Linked DNA regions of Homo sapiens: all the other regions are linked to region 2. A link means that fine-mapping ties the variant in region 2 to the expression of a gene that starts in the linked region. Tissue or cell type: monocytes. Region 2 holds a variant in brackets; each other region holds the start of a gene. All regions are shown on one strand. Distances are between the middles of the regions. Region 1 holds the start of FRMD3 (FERM domain containing 3). Region 2 has its middle 31 kb from the start of FRMD3. Region 3 holds the start of IDNK (IDNK gluconokinase).

Evidence for each region.
Region 1: FRMD3 starts here. The variant in region 2 is fine-mapped to the expression of FRMD3 in monocytes (TOPMed, PIP above 0.99). The same link has a PIP of 0.9 or more in blood mononuclear cells and spleen.
Region 3: IDNK starts here. The variant in region 2 is fine-mapped to the expression of IDNK in monocytes (TOPMed, PIP above 0.99).

What each region holds. Positions count from the first base shown.
Region 1 is chr9:83,534,557-83,542,738 of GRCh38, forward strand. FRMD3 (FERM domain containing 3) reads right to left here and starts at 3,845. Exons shown (of 14, transcript NM_174938.6): 1 at 3,529-3,845. The coding sequence starts at 3,675. RefSeq lists a silencer at 1,798-2,092.
Region 2 is chr9:83,565,446-83,573,627 of GRCh38, forward strand. It overlaps a transcript of FRMD3 not described here. Among named protein-coding and RNA genes, the nearest start is that of FRMD3, 31 kb to the left of the region's middle. The variant A/G (reference allele first, on the strand shown) is at 4,144.
Region 3 is chr9:83,619,830-83,628,011 of GRCh38, forward strand. It overlaps IDNK (IDNK gluconokinase), which reads left to right and starts at 3,314. Exons shown (of 5, transcript NM_001001551.4): 1 at 3,314-3,392. The coding sequence starts at 3,343. RefSeq lists a silencer at 3,009-3,538 and enhancers at 3,719-3,848, 3,869-3,918.

The sequences.
Region 1 (8,182 bases), 31 kb before region 2:
CAAAACACATGCCCTTTCACCATCACACCCTCTAATCAGAGCACAACTAGGCAATTCTCCCTTAGTTTCTGGCTTGGTTCATCTTTTGATGCATAGGCATAATTTGGGGCTACTACTGTCTGAAATATAAGGACACAGTGTATCAAACCTAACAAGGCATTTATGCATATAGTTTCTTTAAAGGCAAATACCATGTTTCTGGGGGGTGGAAATGGCCCCCAGTGACATTTGGATTGTGGGATTCCAATCAGCTCTGAGATGCCAGCCTCCCTGGAAGACCCAGGACACATTAAGTTTGCAAACTGGCAAATAGGGTCGCTTTGTCCATTCAGATCATGAATCCCAACTGGCCTTCAGTCACTGGTTTAAATTCCCCTACCTTGGATTTACCTCTTTCCATGTCTGGAAATTTCATTGAAACTTCAGCTATTTTAACTATGGGGTAATATGTCAAAGACATACATAAGCTTTGGATCCAGACAATTCTGGATTTGAATTCCAGCTGCTCATTCTCTTTTTAGAGATGTGGCCTTGAACAAGTCACTTAAGTTATTAGCTTCTCAGTTTTCTTACCCAAAAGAAGGGAATAATACCTACTCAAAGGTTGGTGGTAGAGATCAGACATAATGAGTGGAAAAGGCTGGCTCATGAGAGATGCTCAAGAAATGGCACCTAGAGCTATTCACATTGTCTCAAGCAATAGTCCTGAAGGTTTCTATCATCTCTTGCATCTACCATGTGTGGCCACTCTCCAGCACCTTGCTAGAGAAACCTGTTTGAGTGGCTCATTTTTCTTTGAATCTGGAATGCTTACCTACTAGAGAACACAGACTAATGAGCTCCCAAGGATGTGTGGCTTGAGTTTCCCCTACTTATTTTGGGGCTCCATAGGCAGCACTCCTGTAGTGAACAGGAGTGAACAACTAACACATGTCCAAGAGCTCCTGCTCCTCCTACAGAGCCTCTAGATCAAGCTCATCCAACCCATGGCCCAGGACAGCTTTGGATGCAGCCCAACAGAAATTCATAAACTTTCTTAAAACATTATGAGACTTTTTGTGATTTTTTTTTTTTTAGCTCATCAGCTATCGTTAGCGTTAGTGTATTTTATGTGTGGCCCAAGACAATTCTTCTTCTTCCAATGTGGCCCAGGGAAGCCAGAAAATTGGACACCCCTGCTCCAGAGCCAGGCAGACACCAGGGATGAGAGCTCCTAACGCAGACAGGCAGATGTGGGCTATGGAGAGAGGGTGACATTCTGTGACAATATATACAATCCTTTAACTTTGTAGTTCTATAGAAGGAAGGAAGCAAACACAGATGGATTCACCCAGAACAAGTGCCAGTAATTCCAAATGGTTTTGTTTCGCATTGTTTTTTAATCCTTTTGTTCTCACTCTAAGCAAATGGGAAGTCTTTGTTACCTGATACCCGGAAGGGCAATTTCAATTCCTGGTCTGGAGTACTCTAGGAAAGTGTGAGGTCTAAAGTTATCCAAATAAAATATTTTAATTTATTTTAATTGGTTAAATAATAATTGTAATTTGGGGGCAGAAAGGGCAGAAAAAGACAAATCACAAAATGAAACATCATAATTTTTTAAAAATCAGTGCCCAAGCCAACATTTTGAAACATAACATTTTAACCTCTTTGGCACTAGTTGGGTCATAAGCACTGGAGTTTTTCAAACTGTTGTTAGACTGGCTACAATTTATTGTTTCTCAAAACACAAGACAACAAATACATGTCCTTTGGGGAATATTTATTATTCTAAGGAAGACTTCATCCTGAGGGAGGGGAAAAAAATGTCAACACCAAGTGGTACAGGGCAGAAGAGGGCTGAGAGACAGAGGAGAACTCAACAGCCTCTCTCCCTGACGGCCCCTCCATCATCTACACATTCATTATGGGTTAAAGGACCTGTACACCCACTTTAGGACTTAAAGCAAAGTGCACAGTCCACACTCTCTGGATCACAAGACTATTAGTACATGCCAGATGCTTCTGTGCAACCCTTGTGGCAGTAGAAACACTGCCTATCCTGCTAATCCTTTTATTATTAAGTTTAGCAGTGCTGCTTAGCTCAGAATGAAATTCAAGCTCCCCCAGAAAATTCAATGGGAGCCTACTTTCCTGGGAGATCATGGGGCATCACATTCCTACCTTGACACTTGTCCGGCTGTCAGGTTACAAATTAATTGCAACTGCCCCCAACATGTCACACACTCCCACTAACAAAAATTAAATAAAAATAAAACAGGGAAAGTCCTTTCATTCCTTCATGGTTTGCACAGCCTAGAGGCTGATTCCTACTCTGGGAGATGCTGCCCCACTCACCTCCCACTGACATGGGTGGTGTGCCCTGTATTACACTAAAAAAAAAAAAAAAAAAAAAAAGCTCAGTCCCAGAGCCTCAAGACTCGACTAGGGTAGGTGAGAAAGGAAATCCCAGAGATAAACAGTTAAATAGATTTAGAAGTCAGAAGTTAATTGTGCTGAGCCCTGACACAACCTTTCCTGATTGTGTGCGCACCGAGTGGGGCATCTTTGGGGTCCTGGAAGAGGGGCTCCCACCTGCCTACATATTCACCCACAGCAAATATGCACACGCACGCGCAACCACATGCACACACACACCTTTGCACCTCACACTAGCTCTCCTGACAGCCCAGAGGCACTTACTACCCGAGGACAGGGCTGCCAGCAAAGCTGCCTTCTCCCAAACAACTCGCCTTCTCCTCCAACTTGGGCGACAGTGAATGTCCACCAAGATTCCACGGGGCTCTTTTACCCAGGACCCAGGTTCCTGCAGGGCTCCCCACTTGCTGGCCTCACAATCCCTTTTCCTTTCTCCGAAACACTCAGACTTCACACATTCCTTTCGAGGTAGCTCCAGTCCGGCGCAGCGCGCGCTCCATCCCTCAAGGCTGGCGCCCAGGGCAGCCCGGCCTCTCTCACTCTGGGGAAACTTCGCCACCGCCCCACGCGGAGAACTAAAGACCACCGGCGGAGGGTGAGGGGGACCGACACGGAGCGGAAAGCAGGTTCCGGGACTGAGGGCGTCTCCGGAGCCTGGGCGCGGGAGACAGAAATGAGTGAACCCAGCTGATGCATGCCTTCTCCACGTGGAAGAAGGGAGGAAATACCAGTGGGCGACATGCAGGTGCCCCTCTCAGCCCTCGGAGCTCCCATCTCCTGGCGGAGTAGGGCCCAGAGGGGCCAGAGTCCCTCCGGAGGCAGCTGCCCCGCGCCCCTAGCCCGGGCGCAGTGAGACGCGCGCGCAGGGTGCACGCGAGGGGAAGGAGACTGGGCGCGGATAACGCGTGCCTGGCGCTTGCAGGGCACCATGCCCCTCCATGCCAGGATAAGGCCCCCCACCCTCAGAGGCCTGAGGAATCGAAATCTGGCTTTCTAGCAGTCCCCCAATCCCCTCCGGGAGTGGGTTCCTTGTTCTCGCATGCCCACCGCAAAGGCCCCCCGCCCTGCTCCCGGCGTGTGCCCCGCGCCCTCGCCCGGTTCCACGCGCACCTGGATGTGGCAGGAGATCTCCGAGTCGTCCAGCAGCCGGATGGTGCATCTCATCTCCTGGCTGAGCGATTTGACGCTGGAGCTCCGAAAGTGGATCATTTTCATGGTCCTCCTGCCTCTCGGCACACAGTGGCAGGAGGCGAACATGCACCGCGGCCGTGGGGAGCGAGCGGGAGGCTCAGGGCCGGCGCGGTGCTCGCCTGCGCGGACACACACGCTCGCACGCACTGTCCGGGACACCTGGGCGCGGCTCAGCCCCGGGACATCGGCAGCGTCGGGCGCCTGCGGACACACATGCCCAGCGGCCGGGGCGCGGCGGGCGGGTCCCTCCCTCTGTTCGCTCGCCTCCGCCTCGCCCCCTCCTTTCCCCGCCTCCTTCTGTCGCGCGCGCTCGTGCGCCTCCCTCTGCCCGGGCTCGCTCGCCGAGGACGCCCAGAGCCTGAGACCCCCGGCGGGCTCGCGACGCACTCACTCCCACGCGCGCCGAGCAGCTGAAGGAGGAGGCGGAGGGATGGCTGGCGCGGCTGGCCCGGGTGCCCTGGTGGTGGCCTGCTCAGTCGCAGCCGCCGCTGCGTCAAGCTGGGCCCGACTGCCTTCCTCAGCCTCACCGCCTCCTCCCTCCCCTGGCCGCTGTCGCTCGGGCTCCCGGTTGTGCTCGTCCCGGCCCCGGCTCCCCAACGCGCTCGACAGCGCCCTGCTCTGCTCAGCTCCAGGGACCTGGCGCGGGTAGGGGACGGAGAGCGATCCTGACCCACACCGCCAGGGGGATTCCGCCTCGGGAAAGGATTGCTGGGCCCAGGGCGAGTGACAGAGAGAGTGACAGCCCTGACACGGCTACACCAGGAATATCGCTAATAGTAAAAATCTCTGGTACTCATGGAGATTGTTTAAGCCATTGTTTTATTTAATGCTAGCTAGGACTCAGTCTCTTTCTCCAAAAAAGAGCCTTCCATGTGCAAATCCTCCTTTAAATCTCCCAACATCTTAGTGTGATCTTTGATAGCATACCTTTGACCCGAGCAAGAGGGATAGGTTCCTATCCTACTCCCCTGCTTTACAGACCTCCTCCAGTTCCCGGTTGCTCAGGAATTAAGAGGTCTAATGGCAAAGCGGATGTGCCCCATCCCGTTTTAGTCCAATCTCTGGGTATTGAGGACTCTGGAATTCCCCACGCGCCTCCAGGGTGTTGAAGGTAGGAGGTATCCTGCCTCTCTGTTGTCCCCAAGGTGGCTAGAGCCACTGTGTCAGGTACCGTAGGCCCGAGAGTGGCCAGGAGCAGCTGTTGAGTCAGGGGTATGGAGCTTGAATGTGAGCACTAGAATGTCCAGGAGCTGGGAGAGATGGAAGTCCTCTCACCCTGTTGCTCTTGCCGGAGCAGAACAGGTCATTAGGAAGGAACATTTGTTAGAAGAGGAGGTGTTGACCAGCTGTCAGCTTTTTCAAGGTTTGTGCCTGCATAGAGTCCCCTCATCCAAAGATATGCCCTGTCCTGGGGGTCGAGGAAGAGTGGCACACAAATTTTACCTGCCCTGGACAGTCTGGTGGGCCATATATTCTCTAGGACACCTAGTGGGGTTGGCTAAGGTTTGGGGGAGTCCGCATTGCATTTGGACTTCTCTCTCTGCCTGCTCCTGCCTCCTCTCCCTGTTGATCACTAATAAATACCACACAGGACAAACTCAGTCTCAGTATCTGCTCCTGGAAATTCCAAATTGCAACAATTTGTCAAGATAGGAGGATAGAGAATGTTTTATGTAGCACTCAATAGCTGACTATTGCTTATGAATATTTAGATGATAGTATGGGGCATTCATGTAGGCTCTTGAGCTGGGCCCTTCAAATGTTAGGGCAGATCCTGATGGAGAGGTCAGTATTGAGGGTATGGGAAGATGTGGATTTCATTCTTGGCCCAGCTACTGGCTAATCCTGGGGATCTTTGAAAAGTCTCTCCATTTCTTTTCTCATTTCAAAGGAGAGAACACCTGTTCATCCCACAGGTGGCTGGGAAGCTGGTATGACACCGGGTCAGTGGAGGACATCTTACAGCTGTAATCTGTAAATCCCCATATGCACATATGAGGTGGCAGGGATGGGACCTGCCCCAAGTTGAAAACTGGATCATCTCTGCTAGCCAAAAGAGCAGACAGCCCAGAGATCAAAGAAAAGTCACCAGCCAAACAGTCCATGCTTTTCTTTTAAGACCACACACACACTTGTCCATCCTATTATAGTGACCGTTAGGCTCCAAAAGAGTCATATCAATACCCAAAAATTGTTACCCCAAATTCCAAGGAAGCAAAATAAGACCAACAAGGACAGTAGTGAAAAAGACAGAATAAAGATAACCCAATGTGGGACTGTAAGAAACAGAATTTTGAAGAAATGAGAAGAATCTGAGATTGGTTGTCTGGCCTGATTAGGAATAAAGGCTGAGATTCAACTAGTATGAAAATACAGGCTCTGGAAGCACTTGGCATGACAGCTAGGTAAATTACCAAGTATGGTCACCTGGATTGAACTACCCAATGAAGACAAGGCTCTGGGAAACCAACTGGCCATTGTCAACAATAATAATAATAATATGAAGATTAGGAAGAACTCAAAGAATGAACTCAAGGGATGAGTTTAAAACTGGACCACTGAAAGAAAAGTAGTGATGCACTAAGTCCTAAATTATCAGCTTATGACTTTTAAACAACTGTATTTTTACAAACAACAGAGCTCAAAGAATATCTTGTTAATTGAGCCACAAGGCCAAAACTGAAAAACCAAATTCACAATTTCATCTACAAATCGCCAAATTACAAAGTCAATTGAATTATCGGCCTCACAAGATTTTATAATTATCAGCAGGAAAGAGTGGGAATCTGGGAATAAGAATAGGACTATAAAAGAAAACTTGAATGATTCCTAGTCACTCAAGCCCCCAAACTCCCTTGGCAGCAGAAGCATGCCCTCTTCCTTATGTAACGAGGCTGTTCCTGCTTTGTTTGAAGATCCTCTTCGGAACTCACTTAAGGCAGTTACCTTGGAAAGGGAAGCCGATCTCCTCCCACCCCTCTCCCACCATCTCTGACTACTCTCACTCTTAATACTTGAACCAGATTCAGTCACACCCTAGGAGACCAACTATAAAGTCAACCCCAAGAAGAGAAAGAATTGCAAGATTCTGCTAATTTACATTGAAGAGTATATGTGTGAATAAACCTGAATCTGTCCATTTGAATTCACTTCCCAATGACTCTGGTTTCAATGTACTATCTAAATTGACTAACTGACTTCTGGACTCAGCTAAATGAAGATGAGAAAAAGGAAATTCCCTGGTACATGTACAGGAAAAGATCCAAAGAATCAAGGAGATGGAAATATTGCAGTGTATTTCCACATGTGGCCAGCTTACCTCTCTTTAACTGTGTCCCCTGAGGGGGCATCCACCAAGATTTTCAAAGAATCATTGGCAAAGGAAGGACTGCCATCTTTGAAAAGCACCAAAGTGGCTGTTCTTTGTAGCAAGAGATGGTTGTGAAAGACACTGCAGTCAAAAGGAGCTCCCTGACTTAAATGGGAAGGATGAGAGCCTGGGCTGGCAGAAGACAAATAGTGGTGCATGACTTAACCCTCAGTGCCAGGGAGGGCTTGGTACAATCATAAGCAGTGGTACCCAAGTAGACTTCAGAATGGTGTGACTCATAGGGATTTTGCTGGTGGCCAAGCATCCAACTAGGACTCAATTTGATCTATAGGACAAACAAGATTTCTACACCAGGTGAACAAAGGCCAGGCTAAAATCCCCCTACAAATATTCCCAAATCTGAACCTGTCCCCCAAAGACAACCAGAAACATTTTTTTATTTTTTATTATTATTATTATTTTTTACCGATTGGGTCCCACTATGTTGCTCAGGCTGGTCTCGAACTTCTGGCCCCAGTCAATCCTCCTGCTTGAGCCTCCCAAGTAGCTGGGATGACAGGCAACAAACAGAGGACATTTGAGTACAGGAAAGGTGGCTCCACTTGAGGCATTAGAATGTCAGCCATAGCAGTGGCTGCAAGTCCAGTTCTTACTAAAGAAGTGGCAATGGGTGAGATTAATTAGTGTCTCACGCTCAGTGATAGTAACTGATATTCTTTACCAAAAAATATGCCTAACCAATGGGTTATAACACTTTGGTAAGCCACAAATAGATAACAGGTGGCCTGCCCACAAAAGATTGATGGTTGTAAATATTGCATCTTGAATTTTTTCATTTTAAGCACTTTTACAGCCATTAAAATTGATAACTTAAAAAGAAATATTTAGGTATAAATCTAACAAAATATGCACAAGATCTTTATGAGGAAAACTACAAGACTCTGGTGAAAGAAATCAAAGAACTAAATAAATGGAGAGCTATTCCATGTTCATGGATAGGAAGACTCAATACTGTTAAGATTTCAGGTCTTCCCAAATTGATCTATAGGTTAAGTGCAACCCAAGTCAAAACCTGAGCTAGTTACTTTGTGGATATCAGCAAACTTTTTTTAAAGTTTATATGGAAAGGCAAAAACCCAGAGTAGCTAACACAATACTGAAGAAAAACAAACTCAGATGACTGATATTACCTGACTTTAAGACTTAATATAAAACCAAAGTGATCAAGGCAGTATGGTACTG
Region 2 (8,182 bases):
GAAGCCAATTTCAAGGGTGGGGCATCCACCCTCAGAACAAGACTCTTCTTCTTAGAGCCTCATTGTTAGCCATGAATCTTGGGCTACTCAGATGGACCCAGTCACCCAGGGTTCCCTCTCCTGAGACACATTTACACCTGCAAAGATACTGCCCGTAGCGCCCTGTCAAAATCTGACTGTCCCAGTCCCATTTCTTCAATGTCTGCCTGGTGACTGAGAAGTCAATCAAATACACTGATTAGTAATAGAGAATTAATGGATGATAATTACTTATGTGTTGTCCTTCCAAATAAAAATAATAATATGGATTCAGCTGAAGTTTAAGTCTTAACCTGAATTTTCCAATTACGGGAATTTTAGGCAATACGGCAGGCCAGTGGAGAAATTTGAGAAAGGAGTTAGGAAATTGGTCTCCTTTTGCATCAAATAAGCCACTAGTTATTCTGTTAACACTTAGAGCTGGCTCTGCATACTCCCATCTGGGAAAGGAGGAGAGTCTATTAAGTTGGGTGCTAAAGTATGATTTACAATAAAAAGGCCAAAAAAATTGAAATGGCCATATGTTAATCTTGGGGAATCTTGCACAGTTACTGACATTATTATGCGGAGTGTATTAATCTGTTTTCATGCTGCTGATAGAGACATACCCGAGACTGAGAAGAAAAAGAAGTTTAATTGGTCTTATAGTTCCACATGGCTGGGGAGGCCTCAGAATCATGGCAGGAGGTGAAAGGCCCTTCTTACATGGTGGCAGCAAGAGAAAATGAGGAAGAAACAAAAGCAGAAACCCCTGATAAAACCATCAGATCTTGTGAGACTTCCCCACTCTCAGGAGAATAGCATGGGAAAGACCAATGCCCATGGTTCAATTACCTTCTCCTGGGTCCCTCCCACAACATGTGGGAATTCTGGGAGATAAAATTCAAGTTGAGATTTGAGTGGGGACACAGCCACACCATATCATTCCACCCCTGGCCCCTGCAAATCTCATGTCCTCATATTTCAAAACCAGTCATGCCTTCCCAACAGTCCCCCAAAGTCTTAACTCATTTCAGCATTAACCCAGAAGTCCATAGTCCAAAGTCTCATCTGAGACAAAGTAAGACCCTTCCACCTATGAGCCTGTAAAATCAAAAGCAACATAGTTACTTCCTAGATACAATGGGGGTACAGTATTGGGTAAATACAGCCATTCCAAATAAGAGAAATTGGCCAAAACAAAAGGGCTACAGGGCCCAAGCAAGTCCAAAATCCAGTGGGGTGGTCAAATTTTAAAGCTCCGAAATGATCTCCTTTGACTCCAGGTCTCAAATACAGGTCACACTGATGCAAGAAGTGGGTTCCCATGGTCTTGGGCAGCTCCGCCCCTGTGGCTTTGCAGGGTACAGCCTCCCACCCGGCTGCTCTCACGGGCTGGCATTGAGTGTCTGAGGCTTTTCCAGGCACACAGTGCAAGCTGTTGGTGGATCTACCATTCTGGGGTCTGGAGGACGGTGGCCCTCTTTTCACAGTTCCACTAGGCAGTGCCCCAGTAGGGACTCTGTGTGAGGGCTCCAACCCCACATTCCCCTTCCACACTGCCCTAGCAGAGGTTCTCCATGAGGGCCCTGCCCCTGCAGCAAACTTTTGCCTGGGCATCCAGACATTTCCATACATCTTCTGAAATCTAGGCAGAGGTTCCCAAACCTCAGTTCCTGACTTCTGTGCACCCACAGGCTCAACACCACGTGGAAGCTGCCAAGGCTTGGGGCTTCCACCCTCTGAAGCCACGGTCAGAGCTAAATGTTGGCCCCTTTCAGCCACAGCTGGAGCAGCTGGGACACAGGGCACCAAGTCCCTAGGCTGCACCAAGTCCCTAGGCTGGGACTCTGGGCCTGGCCTACAAAACCACTTTTTCCTCCTAGGCCTCTGGGCCTGTGCTGGGAGGGACTGCCGTGAAGTTCTCTGACATGGCCCAAAGACATTTTCCCCATGGTCTTGGGGATTAACATTAGGCTGCTTGCTACTTATGCAAATTTCTGCAACTGGTTTGAATTTCTCCTCAAAAAATGGGTTTTTCTTTTCTACGGCATCATCGGGCTACAAATTTTCCAACTTTTATGCTCTGTTTCTCTTTTAAAATGGTATGCTTTTAACAGCACCCAAGTCACCTTTTGAATGCTTTGTTGCTTAGAAATTTCTTCTGCCAGATACCCTAAATCATCTCTCTCAAGATCAAAGTCCCAAAATCTCTAGGGCAGGGGCAAAATGCAGCCAGCCTCTTTGCTAAAACATAACAAGAGTCACTTTTGCTCCAATTCCCAACAAGTTCCTCATCTCTATATGAGACCACCTCAGCCTGGACCTTATTGTTCATATCACTATCAGCATTTTTGTCAAAGCCATTCAACAAATCTCTAGGAGGTTCCAAACTTTCCCACATTTTCCTGTCTTCTTCTGAGCCCTCCAAACTGTTTCAGCCTCTGCCTGTTACCCAGTTCCAAAGTCACTTCCACATTTTCAGGTATCTTTTCAGTAATGCCCCACTCTACTGGTACCAATTCACTGTATTAGTCCAAATTCACGCTGCTGATAAAGACATATCTGAGACTGAGAAGAATAAGAGATTTAATTGGACTTACAGTTCCACATGGCTAGGGAGGCCTCAGAATCATGGTAGGAGATGAAAGGCATTTCTTACATGGCAGCAGCAAGTGAAAATGGGGATGAAGCAAAAGCAGAAACCCCTGATAAACCCACCAGATCTCATGAGACTTATTCACTATCACGAGAACAGCAGGGGAAAGATTGGCACCCAGGATTCAATTACCTCCCCCTGGGTCTCTCCCACAACACGTGGGAATTCTGGGAGATACAATTCAAGTAGAGATTTAGGTGGGGACACAGACAAACCATTTCAAGGAGTATGTAGAAATATGACAAATTATGTATTAAATTAATTGGGGAGATCAAAATAATATCTATATTAAAATTGTAGATATTTTTAAAACACATATCAAGTACCACTTTGCCTTTAAAAAGAGAGAAATCTTGTCATTTGCAACAACATGGATGAATCTGGAAGATATTATGCTGAGTGAAATATGCCAGGCACAGAAAGACAAATACTGCCTGATCTTACTCATGTGTGGAATCTAAAAGAAGGTGAACTCAAAGAATTAGAGAGTAGAACAATGGTCACCAGACGCTGTGGGGTGGAGAAGAAGGGAATGGAGAATTACTGATCAAAAGGTATAAAGTTTCAGACAGACAGGAGGACTAGGTTTACTGCAATTAAGATTACTATAGTCAAAATAATGTACTATATATTTAATAATAAGTAAGAGTAAATTTCAGATGTCTCAGTGTAAAAAATGATAGGTAAGTCAGATGATGGATAAGTTAATTAGCTTAAATAGATCATGCCACATTGATCTATATCAAAATATCACATTATACTCCATAAATGTGAATAACTACAACTTGTTAGAAAAGATAGATAGATAGATAGATAGATAGATAGATAGATAGATACATACATACATACATACATACATACATACATACATAGAGGTAATAATTGGACACAATATTGGGAAATGATTTCAATAGCCAATATGAGTAAGGGATAGGATTAACCCTTCAATTTCCTGCAGCAGTCTAGATAAACTTTTCTTTGCAAAGATAATAAGCTATTTAAAAAAGGAGAATATGGGCACGAAGGATATTAAATTCTAGCCTGAATGCTCCAGAGACTTTCTGAAGGTAGACTAAGAAGATATCTGTGCTCAGGTACGATACTCTGCTAAAGAAAACATGTAGATACTTAATGCCATGTTTTAAAAATGCATACCATCTACTTAAGGAAGAAAATTTACCTTAGATGGACTGGAAAACTTCAATAACATTGGAAGAGATCCCTCCTCTTGCAGATGGATCTCATTTTTGATAAATAGACTCTCCCCAACCCAATCTAAAGTGTCCCAGCCCACCCACAGGCGTCTGCCTGGCCCAGGAGCTGAGGCTGAGAGCATGCTGCCCACAGAAACGGGGACTTGCCACCCAGTGCTCAGCCTGTTCTCAGAAGCTGCAGTTTCCTTCCTCCATCCTGCCATTGACCTCAAATTGAGGAAGGAAAGTAGCCATTTGATTGCTGCTGTTTCC[A/G]TTTCTAGCTCTCTAAATTTAGCTGCTAGACTTTTTGACCTGGCCTTCTGAGGCCAGGCATAATATCTTCCAGTTTCATCCATGCTGTTGCAGATGATAAGATTTGTCTCTTTTGAAAGCCAAGTAGTACTTGATACGTGTTTTCAAAACGGCTACAATTTTAATATGGGTATTATTTTGATTTCGCCACTTAATTTAATATATACTTCAGCATATTTCTACATACTCCTTGACATGGTTTGGCTGTGTCCCCACCCAAACCTCAGCTTCAATTGTATTTCCCAGAATTCCTACTCTGAGAACTTTGTATTTTTCTATTTTAGTTGTTTTGTGTTGAATTGAAGGCATTTCAGCACAGAAACTGAAATTCTCCAGAATGTCGGATTCTGGAAACTCCAAAGTTTAAGGATGAATACAGAGCTCCTGGCTTTTTCAAGTTCCCATCAGATTTTCAGTTTGAGTTTTTGTCCAACAAAGTGGTTCATGTTGCTCAAATTCCCATCTCCTCCGCTTACCTTCATTCACTCATGCAACATTTGACAAACATTTACTAAGTATCTACTGTATGTCAGGCACTCCTCTAGGCACTGGGACAACAGCATGAACAAAGCAGATAGAGGTATCTGATTACCTTGCTGTGGGAAGAAACAACTTATAACCAGAATACATAAGAAAAATAGTAAACTAGATGGTGATCCAATTATCTGAGGGGAAATAAGCAGGGAAAGGAAAAGGGGGTGTTGGGAGTAAAGATGACTGTTGCAATTCATTACATAGAATCACAAGAAATTGCCATCTTGGAGGTCATATATTACTTTTGAACTACTGGCAATTTCATGTGATTTAATCTGCATTGGTTTTCTACTGTTGCATAACAAATTATCACACACTTAGTGTTCTCAGCAAATAATGCAATGAGTACAAAGATCCTCAGGGAGTCATATGCTTGGATTGTTGAAGAACAGCCATGAGGTCTTAGTAGCTGGACTGGAGACCGAAAGTAGCAGGATTTCAAGTCAGACAGCATTGCAAAGTGAATAGATCACACAGGGACCAGTTAGCAATGGAAAGGATTTGACTTTAACTCTGAGAGTATTGAGAACTCAATAAAGAATTCTGAGCAGATTTTGGCATGATCTGACTTACAAACTGACAGGAACACTTGCTGCTGTGTTGAGAACACATGAAGAGAGGCAAGGGCAGAAGCAGGGAGACCAGTTAGGAATCGGCTTCCGTAATCTAGGCAAGAAATGATGGTGGTTTGGACCTGGGTAGCAAAGGAGGTGGTGAGGAGTGACTGGGTTCGGAGTATATTTTGAAAGTAGGACTGAAAAGACTGCACATAAGGTAAAAGAAAAGTCAAAAATGACTCTGCTATGTTTTGGATTTAGTCTGTCCCTGCACAAACTCATGCTGAAATTTGATTCCCAATGTGGCAATGTAAGTCATATGGACTAGTGGGAGGTCTTTGAGTCATTGAGGCTGGGGGGGATTCCTTCATGGACAGATTAATGTTCTCCCATGGAGGTGAGCACTTGCTCTCTCAGGAATGGATTCATTCCTGCAAAAAAAGGTTCTTAAAAAGAGTCTGGCTTCCTTGGTTTCTCTTGCTTCCCCTCTCCCAATGTGATCTCTTTGCAAACTTCACTCCTCTTCACTCCCCTTCTACTTTCCACCATGAGTAGAAGCAACAAGAGGCCTTCACCAGAGGCAGCTGCCCAATCTTGAACCACCCAGCCACCAGAGTCATAAGCCAAATTAGCATCTTTTCTTTATAAATTACGGAGTCTCTGGTATTCTGTTTTAGCAACACAAAACAGACTAAGATAGACTTCCAAGGTTTTTGACTTGAGCAACCAAAAGGATGCAATTGCCATTCATGAAAATAGTGACGACTGCAGGAAGAGCAAGCCTGTGAAGGAGATACCAGTAGCTTTGTTTTAGTCAGGTTAAATTTTAGTTGCGTGTTGACATCTGAATTGAGATTTCAAGTAGACGGTTGGGTACACAAGGCTGGGGCCAAGGGAGACATCTAGCTAAGACAGAAATTATATATTCAGCTAAACATAAGTCCACACTGACATCTCTGACCTTAACCCAGTACCACAGAGTTCATTCTAGCCTTCCTGTCTTGCTCATCTGTAACTTTACTCTCTGACAATGAGAAACCTGGTCCCACCAATGAAGATCATTCTTGACCTTGACAGAGGAATTTCTGTGAAACAGGGGAACCTAAAGCTTGGCTGGAGTGTGTTTCAAAGAGAATGAGAGAAGAGAAATTGGAGTCAACAACTATACGTAAACAGTGGTTCCCAACATTCAGTATAGATCACAATCACCTGCAGGCTTGTTAAAGCACAGATTGCTGGGCCCACACCCAGAATTTTTGATTCAGTAAATTTGGAGTAAGGCCCAAGAATATGTATTTCTTACAAGCTCCCAGATGATGCTAATGCTGCTGGTACTTATACCACACTTTGAGAACCACTAGACTCACAGAATTTTGCTTGACAAGGAAGACAAGAAATGGAGCAATAGATAGATGGTGAAGTTTTTTGAGGTGTGTGTGTGTGTGTGTGTGTGTGCATGCGCATGTGTGTGTGTGTAGGCAAGTGGTAACAGCACATTTGTAGTCTAATGAGAAGAGTCAAGTAAAGAGGAAAAGAATACTGTTTCAAGAGATGGGGATAGTGGAAATGGTAGGGAATTGCTGGAGGAAAATCCTTGAGCTGGTGAGAGGATAGAATCAGTGCCGAGAAAGGACAGGCCTGAAAGGGCAGCATGTTCAATTCATTCTTAATAACTAGAGGGAAAGTAGAGTATATCAGAACAAATGGAGGTAGATGAGAGGTGGCACCGGGGCCTTGTGAAGTCTCTTTTCATTGTCTCTCATTTCTCAGTGAAAGAATATGTAGTTATCCCCTGAGAGAGAGGCTGGAGGAGGCAGCGTCAGAGTTTGGAGGTTAAAGAATGCAAAGAATCGCCTAAGAGAAGGGAGAGTAAATAGATTAGAGAAATATAGAATGATTGCTACGCAGCATTATGAGCCTTCTTGGGGTGAGTGGTCAGGAAGTGAAAGTGAGACAGGCATGTGTGGCTGTGTTTTTCTTCCAGCCTGGTTCAGCAGCACGGGAACAGGCGTGGAGTAAGAGCAGAGTTGGATTTGTGCAGGATGTGGTTTCTCAGGGAAAGGCAATGAAGCAAGAGAAAAGCCAGAGATTTGGCTTGTTGACTATAATGAAAGCACTTTCCATTTCTGTTTGGCCTTATGAAATATTCAATAAAAAATACTTTCTACATTTATCTTTTCCTGTTATTGAAGCAACAATAATAATTGCAATTTTAAAGGCTGTGACCATCATGGAAATGTATTTATAATACAGTGTTATTGAACAAAGGTAGGAATCAAAACTGGGTCTATCCTGGGATTGCAGAAAAATAAAAATGACGGAAGAATGTGGACAATGGTAAGTACAGGGATGACTGAAAAGAGTTTTATTCATGTAGTGGTGAGATTGTGGAGGAATTTCTTTCTTATTTTCCTATTTATTTATGTTCAGTTTAGGTCAATAAACATTAATTGAGCATCTATTAATGCCCATCATTGTTCTAGGCTCCAAGAGCACCAAAAAAAAGGAAGAAGATTCAGAAAAGAAGAAAGAGGAAGATGGGAAGAAGATGGTGGAGAAGGAGGAGAAATTATAGTTTTCTTTTTCACTTAAAAAGCCTATAGGCTAAGAATGATATTGCCATGTTTTTGTTTATATAACAAATCATTATACTAAAAATTTTACCATAAATGTGGCAAACAGGATTTTAGTGTCTTTAACAGACTACATTAGTTATATTCTTTTGGTTATAAGTAAGAATCTTACTAAAATTAAGTTAAGCAAAGCAGGACACCTGATTGTAAGGACTGGATCGCAAAAACCTAATGGCAAGAAATAGTGGGACCCCAGGAGCAAGCTGGAAGCAGAGACCTGAACACAACTAGTCTCTCTGCCTCTCATCTCTACTCTTCTGTGAGTGTTGCCTTCAT
Region 3 (8,182 bases), 54 kb after region 2:
GCTCTTGTAAATGAAAATTTTTTTAATTTTTTCCTTGCAGATTGTTTAGAATTACAATTGATTTTATACACTGATCTTGTAACCTGTCACTTTCCTGATCTCACTTATTAACTCTAGTAGGTTTATTGTGGATTCCTTAGGTTTTCTATAAACAAGATCATGTGATCTGGAAATAGAGATAGTTTTACATATTCTTTTCCAATCTGGATGCCTTTTATTTCTTTTTCTTATCCAATTGCCCTGGCTAGAACCTCTAACAGAATGTAGAATAGAAGCGGTGAGAGAAGACATTCTTGCCTTGTTCCTGATCATAGGGAGAAACATTCAGTCTTTTCACCATTAAGTATGATGTTACCTGGGGTTTCACAGATACTTTTTATCTAGTTGGGAATTTTGTATTCCTGGTTTGTTGAGTATTTTGATCACAAAGGGAAGTTGAATTCTGTGAAGTGCTTTTGTTTTACATCTATTGAGATAACAGATACCATTTTGCCTTTCTGCAAACTTTGTTCTGGATCTTTAGAGTGGCCACTTTTAATTATGAAGATGTGAAGCAAGTATACAGCCATTACTTCCAGAAGAAAGTGTAACAAGCTACTTGGCTAAGACCTGGGATTTGACTTTTAAGCTCTTTCATGCATCTATTTGAACTCTCAGAATTAAACTGGGATCAAGGACTCTCCTGGAAGGGAAAGGGGGAAGATCCAAACTCTTCTCAATTAGACATATCAGAGCTGTGAGGCTCCTGGTATGTGAATATCTGTCCCAACCCAGCCATCTTTGTGGATGATTTGCCTCCCAGGGAAGTGCCTGTGCGCATTAAGGTGCTCGTCACTGAGCTCTGTTTAACCGCTGTGGAAATGGTCAGCTTCATACAGGAGCGCTGCCATTTCTGTTTGAGACTTACAGTACATGCTGTCCAGAATCTGGGGGTGATCTGGACTTGAGTGACTATAGAAACGCATGCAAGAAGCTGTGCCTCGCTAGGGACTCGGGGTTTCCAGAGTACCATGTGCCTCAGTACAACAGTTCTTGCAGTAGACAGGACCTAAAACCAGACCAATATTCAGCATCTGGGTTGCCCCATAGTAACAGCTGGGAAGCACCGAGACAACCAGGACCAGCAGGTGGCACTCTTTGGAAAGCAAAAAAAAAAACGTGGAATTCAGCTCTTAGGGGCACCTTTGAAGTTCCGCTGTCCTGGAAGCAGGCACAGAGTTTCACTGACACTGGCATGCTGGGTATCTTTCATTGGTACCTCCAGATACAATCTCCACCCTTCTCTTCCCTGCTCTGAGCCCAGGAAATTGGCATGCATGGGCACCGCCGGACTCCCTAGCTCTCCACCTTCCAATTGGGTTTGGCTGGTGGGGTTTGGCCACGAGCAGGAGATCACAGGGCAAGAGGAGGGGAGGGGAGGTTATTTATTCTCCTGATTATTTTTCTGCTGGGTCAACAAGGAATGTCTATCTCTCTCTTCCTAAGGCTACAGTCCTGTCAGACACTTCTTTCTATATGGTCTATTCTCTCTGTCTCTCTCCTTCCATTCTCTTCCCTTCCCATATAAAGGCTCCCTCTCATCAGCCCCTTTCTATTTAAGAGTGAAAACACTTCTCGGTTACTCAGATGTGGACTCTGCCCCTAGTTGCTTTTTCTGACCCTACCCACACCTGTGCTAATAGTCCCTTTGTTAAATCCTGTTCACCTGCCCCAATTTGAGCATGCTGTTTCCTGCCACCACCCTGAGCAGCACAGCAAGTTTAAGATCCTTGGACATGTCTGGGGAAAGAAATCCAAGGAGAAGAATCAGATTTTCTGCTAATCATTCTGATTTGAACATTGAAAGAAATATGAGCTTTTTTTTTTCATACTGAGCTAGCGAAGCAGGGCACGAGTTAAGAGTATTTGCATACACATCTATTCCTCTTATCAAGCTTGAGAATGCCTAGAGGGTAATCTTTTAAATGAATATTAATATGATATTAACCAGCACATGGTAGATGTTCAAGAAATGTGTATTGACCATAACTGAATTGTAAGACCTCTCTCCAAGCCTCAATTTCTTCACCTGTACAGCCCCCATCCAGATTGAAATCTCACCTACTCGGGCTAAGTATATGAAAAACAAAGGCAGTGCAGGGGTAATTGAACTATTCATTAGATAAATGCTTTTATGTCACTTTTATTGTTTTCTAGGACACAGAGTAATACCTACCTTGGTTAACAAAAGACCAAAGGAGGTGATGCCAAATGCGGTTAGAAGTGCTTTTAATCACTTTGGGAGGCCGAGGCGGGTGGATCATGAGGTCAGGAGATCGAGACCATCCTGGCTAACAAGGTGAAACCCCGTCTCTACTAAAAATACAAAAAAAATTAGCCGGGCGCGGTGGCGGGCGCCTGTAGTCCCAGCTACTCGGGAGGCTGAGGCAGGAGAATGGCGTGAACCCGGGAAGCGGAGCTTGCAGTGAGCCGAGATTGCGCCACTGCAGTCCGCAGTCCCACCTGGGCGACAGAGCGAGACTCCGTCTCAAAAAAAAAAAGAAGTGCTTTTAATCAAATAGTTCAAACGACACATAATTAACATTGTTTTAAAGCAAATGGACACTTTAAAGTGGTGCTCCTTCCTCTTAAAGCCCCAACCAGTGCTGGATTTAACAGCAGAGCCATACAGCCAAGACATATGCTGCTACGGTCAACACTCAACCCTAAGTTTGACACCAAAAGATGGCCGCCATTTATTATTGTGACAAAAGGCCAGATTACAAAACGCTGTGTACGGCCTGATCCCAGTTTTACAAAATACTCATACCCATCTATCTACGACGGGGCGCGGGGAAAGGGGAGTCGTTTTAGGAAGTGCTGCTTATTGCTGCCTGGTGTGGGAAATTATGAGTCTTATTTTCTGTTTATTCTTTTTACAAGAACATTTTTATAAATGAATGAATGAATGCTTTCCATGGGTGGATGAGGATCCGGCCTGCCAGGGTGAGGATCCTCTGGAACCAAGAGGGGCCGGGGCAGTAGAACGACAGGTGGCGGGGCTTTGGGCGGCTCCCTCCAGCCCAGGGAGACGCGAGTGCCAGGCCGGGCGCGCGCTTCACTTCCGGGAAGAGGAAAGAGGGAGGGGAGGGGAGAGGAAAAGAAGGGGCAGGAGAGAGAGGCCGGGAGGTTGGGAAAGGGAGGAGGAAAGCATGGAAAAGGGGCGCGGGAAAACGGGGAGGGCGCAGAGGGGCACGGCCCTCACTGCCCCGGCCGGGGCGAGAGCGGCTCCGCCCCTCGAGCGCCGGGTAGGCCGGGGCCGGCGGGGCCCGGAAGGCGACGGGAAGGAGCCGAGCTTGGGTTATGGCGGCGCCGGGCGCGCTGCTGGTGATGGGCGTGAGCGGCTCGGGGAAGTAGGTCCGGGAGAGGGCGGGGGGCGCCCGGGACAAGTGTTGCGGGCGCGGCGGAGGCCGGACGCGTCGCCGTCCCTGCCGGTGGACTGGGGTCTTGGGGACCCCCCACCCTTCCCTTTGCAGATGAAGAAACCGAGGCCCGCGGCTGCCGCGCCCTCTCCCCGCCCTCCAGCCTGCTCGCGGGGCGCCCATCCTGGGACCGCATCCGAGCTCCGGGTTCCCGCTCTAAGACGGGGAGGCTGCGGCGACCGCAGGCTCAGGGAGGAAGCCGCTCCTGAACAGGCGGCTGCGGGGCCGCGCAGGTGGAGGCCTAGCGAGCGGCGCGGGGCTAGGTTTCGGGGCGCCTTGTCGGGGCCAGGCGGGAGGGCGCACGGCCTCTAGCGAGAGGACGCAAACCACGGCCCAGGCTCTCACAGACCTTTGGCCATCTGGACACACAGCGGCCTCCTCCTATGAGGCCCTGGACTTCTCCGATTCAATTTTGGAAAGTGAATCGTTTTCCCCTTCCTTTCATCAGCTTAACCTGGAAGGAGACAGCGTTAATATGGAGGGTGGCTCCTGAGGGTTTGGAAAGAAAGAAGAGAATTGTGGAAACCACAGAGGTAGCCCAGTGTGCTAACCTGGAGACTGAGGAGTTAACATTTGGCTTCCTGTTTAAACCAAAGTCTAACTGTGCCCTTTATCAGAAAAGACAGCTGCTGTACCATTCGACCACAGGCAGCAAAGGACAGAACTTGATCAGCTAAAACATCATAACCTTCAAGGGCCTATAGGACCCTTCTAGAATTTTCTGAATCAGGAACGGCCCATGTTGTGGCCTGTGTAGTCAGGTGTATATTAAAGATTTACTCCAGGTAGATGGGTTTTGCTTTCCAAAATTATTGTAGGGTTCTCAGCCACAAAGATAAAAAGAAATCTTGAACTGCAATTGAAATAAAACATGGAGCCCCCAAATCCCTAGCTGCCATATGATTTGAATCAGTTGGAGAATGTAAAATCATTGCCATGGTGTGATGTAACAGGAGTGAAGAGCCCTAGGTCTTGGTTCTGTTGCTGTCTGGCTGTGTGAGCCTGGGCAGTTCATGTACCCCCTCTGAGTCTTGAATCAGATGAGGGAGGCCTAATCCCTATGATGTATAGCTTGTGATATTCATGTACTCAGTAATTATTGAGCTCAATCCTTACTCTATGTCATTGTCATATAGCGAACAGGACAGATAAAATCCCTGCCCTCAAAGGATTTACATTCTGGTATGGGAGACAGAGTAAATGAATATATGTAGTGTGTGAGTTGGTGATAGATGCTCTGGAGTAAGGGGAACAAAGAGTGCCAGGCAGAGTGGTCAGGGATGTCTCCTCTGGGGGAGTGGCGTTTCAGCAAAGACCTGCAAGACTTGAGGAACCTGCCATGTGGATAGCTGAGGAAAGGGCAGGACAGGCAGAGGGAATGGCAGGTGCAATGGTTCTGAGGCTTAGCTTCTTTTGTTTTTTTTTTGTTTTGTTTTGTTTGAGGCGGAGCTTCACTCCTGTTGCCCAGGCTGGAGTGCAGTGGTGCAATCTTGGCTCAATGCAACCTCCTCCTCCCGGGTTCAAGCAATTCTCCTGCCTCAGGCTCCTAAGTAGCTGGGATTATAGGCGCCCACCACCATGCACAGCTAATTTTTTGTATTTTTAGTAGAGACGGGGTTTCATCATGTTGGCGAGGCTGGTCTCAAACTCCTGACCTCAGGTGATCCATGCGTCTCAGCCTCCCAAAGTGCAGGGATTACAGGCGTGAGCCACCGCGCCCAGCTAAGGCTTGGCTTCTTTAAGGAGCAGGAAGGAACCCATTGTGGCTGAGTGAGGGGAAGCATGATGGGAGATGAAGTCAGAAACAATGCAGGTAAAGAGAATGTGGTCATATGCTGGCAATATTTTGAAGGTAGAGTCAGAAAGATGTGTTTGTGGACTGGATGTTGGGTGTAAGAAGACAAGAGAGAAGTCAAGGATGATTCAAGATTTTAGGCCTGAGTAATTGGAAGGAGGGAGTCGCCACAAACTGATTTGGGGAAGCAGTAGATAGAGCAGATTTGGAAGACAACCTCAGAAGCTCAGTGTGGGATATGGTGACTTGGACGAGCCAATTAGTCATCCAGTGGATGGTGGTTGGATGTCCAAGTCTGAAGTTCAGAGGAGAGGGACTTTAGATCTAACTGTGGGAATCACTGTTGTGTGGGTGTACTTAAAGATCTAAGGTGTTGAGATCACCAAAGGAGTGCATGTAGATAAAGAAGCTGGCCAAGAACTGAACCCTGGGGACTTTCAGTGGCGCAGGGTCAGGGAGATGTGTCCAATGTTATTGACTAGCTGAGTAATAAAAAGACTGGGACTTGATTATATTCATCATTGGATGTAGCAACATCAAGTTCTTTAGTGACTTTGTGAACCCCTATTGGAGCCCTACAGGATTTTTTAATTATACTCCATAGCATTTAGAAAAATATTTATCACAGCCTAATGGCTGAAGAGAACAATAGTCTCAAAACAGAAAGACTCCATTTAGAACACTGTTAAAACACAGTGACCTCAAGGACTAAGTTTGTTACTGTCTTCCCCCACCTGAATGTAAAGGATTATTTTCCTTTTTATTTACTGATACATGTGTCTAGAACAGTTCCTGGCATTTCGTAGATACTAAATACTTGTTGACTTAATGAATGGATGGATGGATGGAAGACGGCAGGCATCTGAGTGGGTGGCAGAGTTAATTTTCTTTATATTTTCACAATCTTAATGAAGCCACCCTTAACATCTCCTTCCAGGTTTCCTTCTCTTTGCTGATGAAACAAGCTCAGACCTTTTGAATATCTTTCTCATTGATTCTGCATCCCTTCCTTCTCCCCCATTGGTCTGTGTTGTCTTTTTAAGTCCCTTGCCCCTGATTTAGACCAACCCACTGGGAGACATATGGACCCCAAATCTTGATTTGTAATCCTGGGTCTGACCAGTATTTTTGGGCCCAGCACTGTGCCTTATTTCTGCCAGGGTCTTTGGTGCATATTCAAGAGTCCAGGTGTTCTCTGGTTTAGACAGACAGTGGTTTTTCTTTTCCCATCTTCTTCCTGACAGTCTACACCCACATCTCTTTACCTCTGCTTTCAAATTATGAGTGCTGGCTGGCATGTTCATTCATGGCTAATCTAACTTGTTTTTTTGTTTTTTGTTTTTTGTTTTGAGACAGACTCTCACTCTGTCGCCCAGGCTGGAGTACAGTGGCGTGATCTCGGCTCACTGCAACCTCTGCCTCCTGAGTTCAAGCGATTGTCATGCCTCAGCCTCCGGAGTAACTGGGGTTACAGGCGTGCACCACCACACCCAGCTAAGTTTTGTATTTTTAGTTGAGACGGGGTTTTGCCATGTTGGCCGAGCTAGTCCCGAACTCCTGGCCTCAAGTGATCCGCCTGCCTCAGCCTCCCAAAGTGCTGGGATTATAGGCGTGAGCCAAGGGCTCAACCTAACTTGGTCTTAAGTGTGATTTCTGCTATGCACACTTCTGGCTTCACCAGCCATGGAGTTTGGCCGGGATGGTCTACTCATCCGTAGGCTGCATGTCTCCCTGCGCAGCCTTCAATAGAATGAACTAATGGGAAAGGTTTCACTGCTCTCGCAACCTTTGGTTACATCCAGGAGCAGATCTCAGTTTGGTACAACTGTGTCTAACACCTCTCTGATAGCTTTTTAGTGAAAGAAAGAGGACCTTTGTTAGGCAACAGTATCCAGCTAGAATTTAATCACATTGTTCTGTTTTCATTATATACAGCTTTTCAGGTACCTTCTATTCAAGGCAAGTGATGATAGCTTCTTGTGCAAGGGAATGAAAGAAAGTTTCCTTCTTTAACACACTTATTTAATTTTTAAAAGTGAAGCAATTAAATAAAAACATCAAAATGTTGAGGTGATATGTAAAATTTAAGAGGGCATGATAAAATAGTATGGGGATAGGTAAAAATTAGGAAGATAGTGCTTAAATAATTGGCATTTGGGCAACACTTTAAACATTGAAAGCGAGAAAGCACTTTATGGGTCATTGTCTGCTGGCCTCCACCCCTACCTACCCTATGTACTAGACTGTTTAGGAAGGCTGAGGCCATGTGTCAGTGAGCTTACCGTTACATCCTGGGAACTGGTAGGTGCTCAATAAAGAAATGAAATGTAGGTGGATGGATACATCATGTGGCTCAGATCCCTTGTTTTGCAGGTGAGAAAACTGAGGTTTAAAGGAACAGGTGACTTGGCTGGGAGCACTCAGTCATTTAGTGGCAGTAGGCAACTGTGGCCCCATCTCCAGTACTGAGTCCCGAGCCCCTTTCACTAGCACATGCTGCCTGGTAGAGTATGAACAGATAGTTACCAAATGCTCTACACAGAGAACATTTAACCCCCAGTCTTAACAAGTGCCGGTGATTCATGAGATATTGACCCATGTCCTTTATTTTACGAGTGTGTCTCTTTTAAACTCCAAAAATGTTTTTATGCTTTTATGAGTGTCCTGAACTTTACATGGGTGCTGCTGGAGATTAAATCCTCCATCAGACCCCTCCATTCAATATTTTCAGCAGAATTTTATCACTATGAATTCAACATCCCCACCACAAAAAAAAAAAAAAAAAAAAAAAAATTACACAACAGGGACCAAAAACTGATTACTGAAGAAAAAACTTGGGTTTAATGAGATCTTATATATTGCCTTTAGAGAAAGAAATAGTGTTAACTAATTATTTCTTCATTGACATTCGTGGGGATCAGCTAAG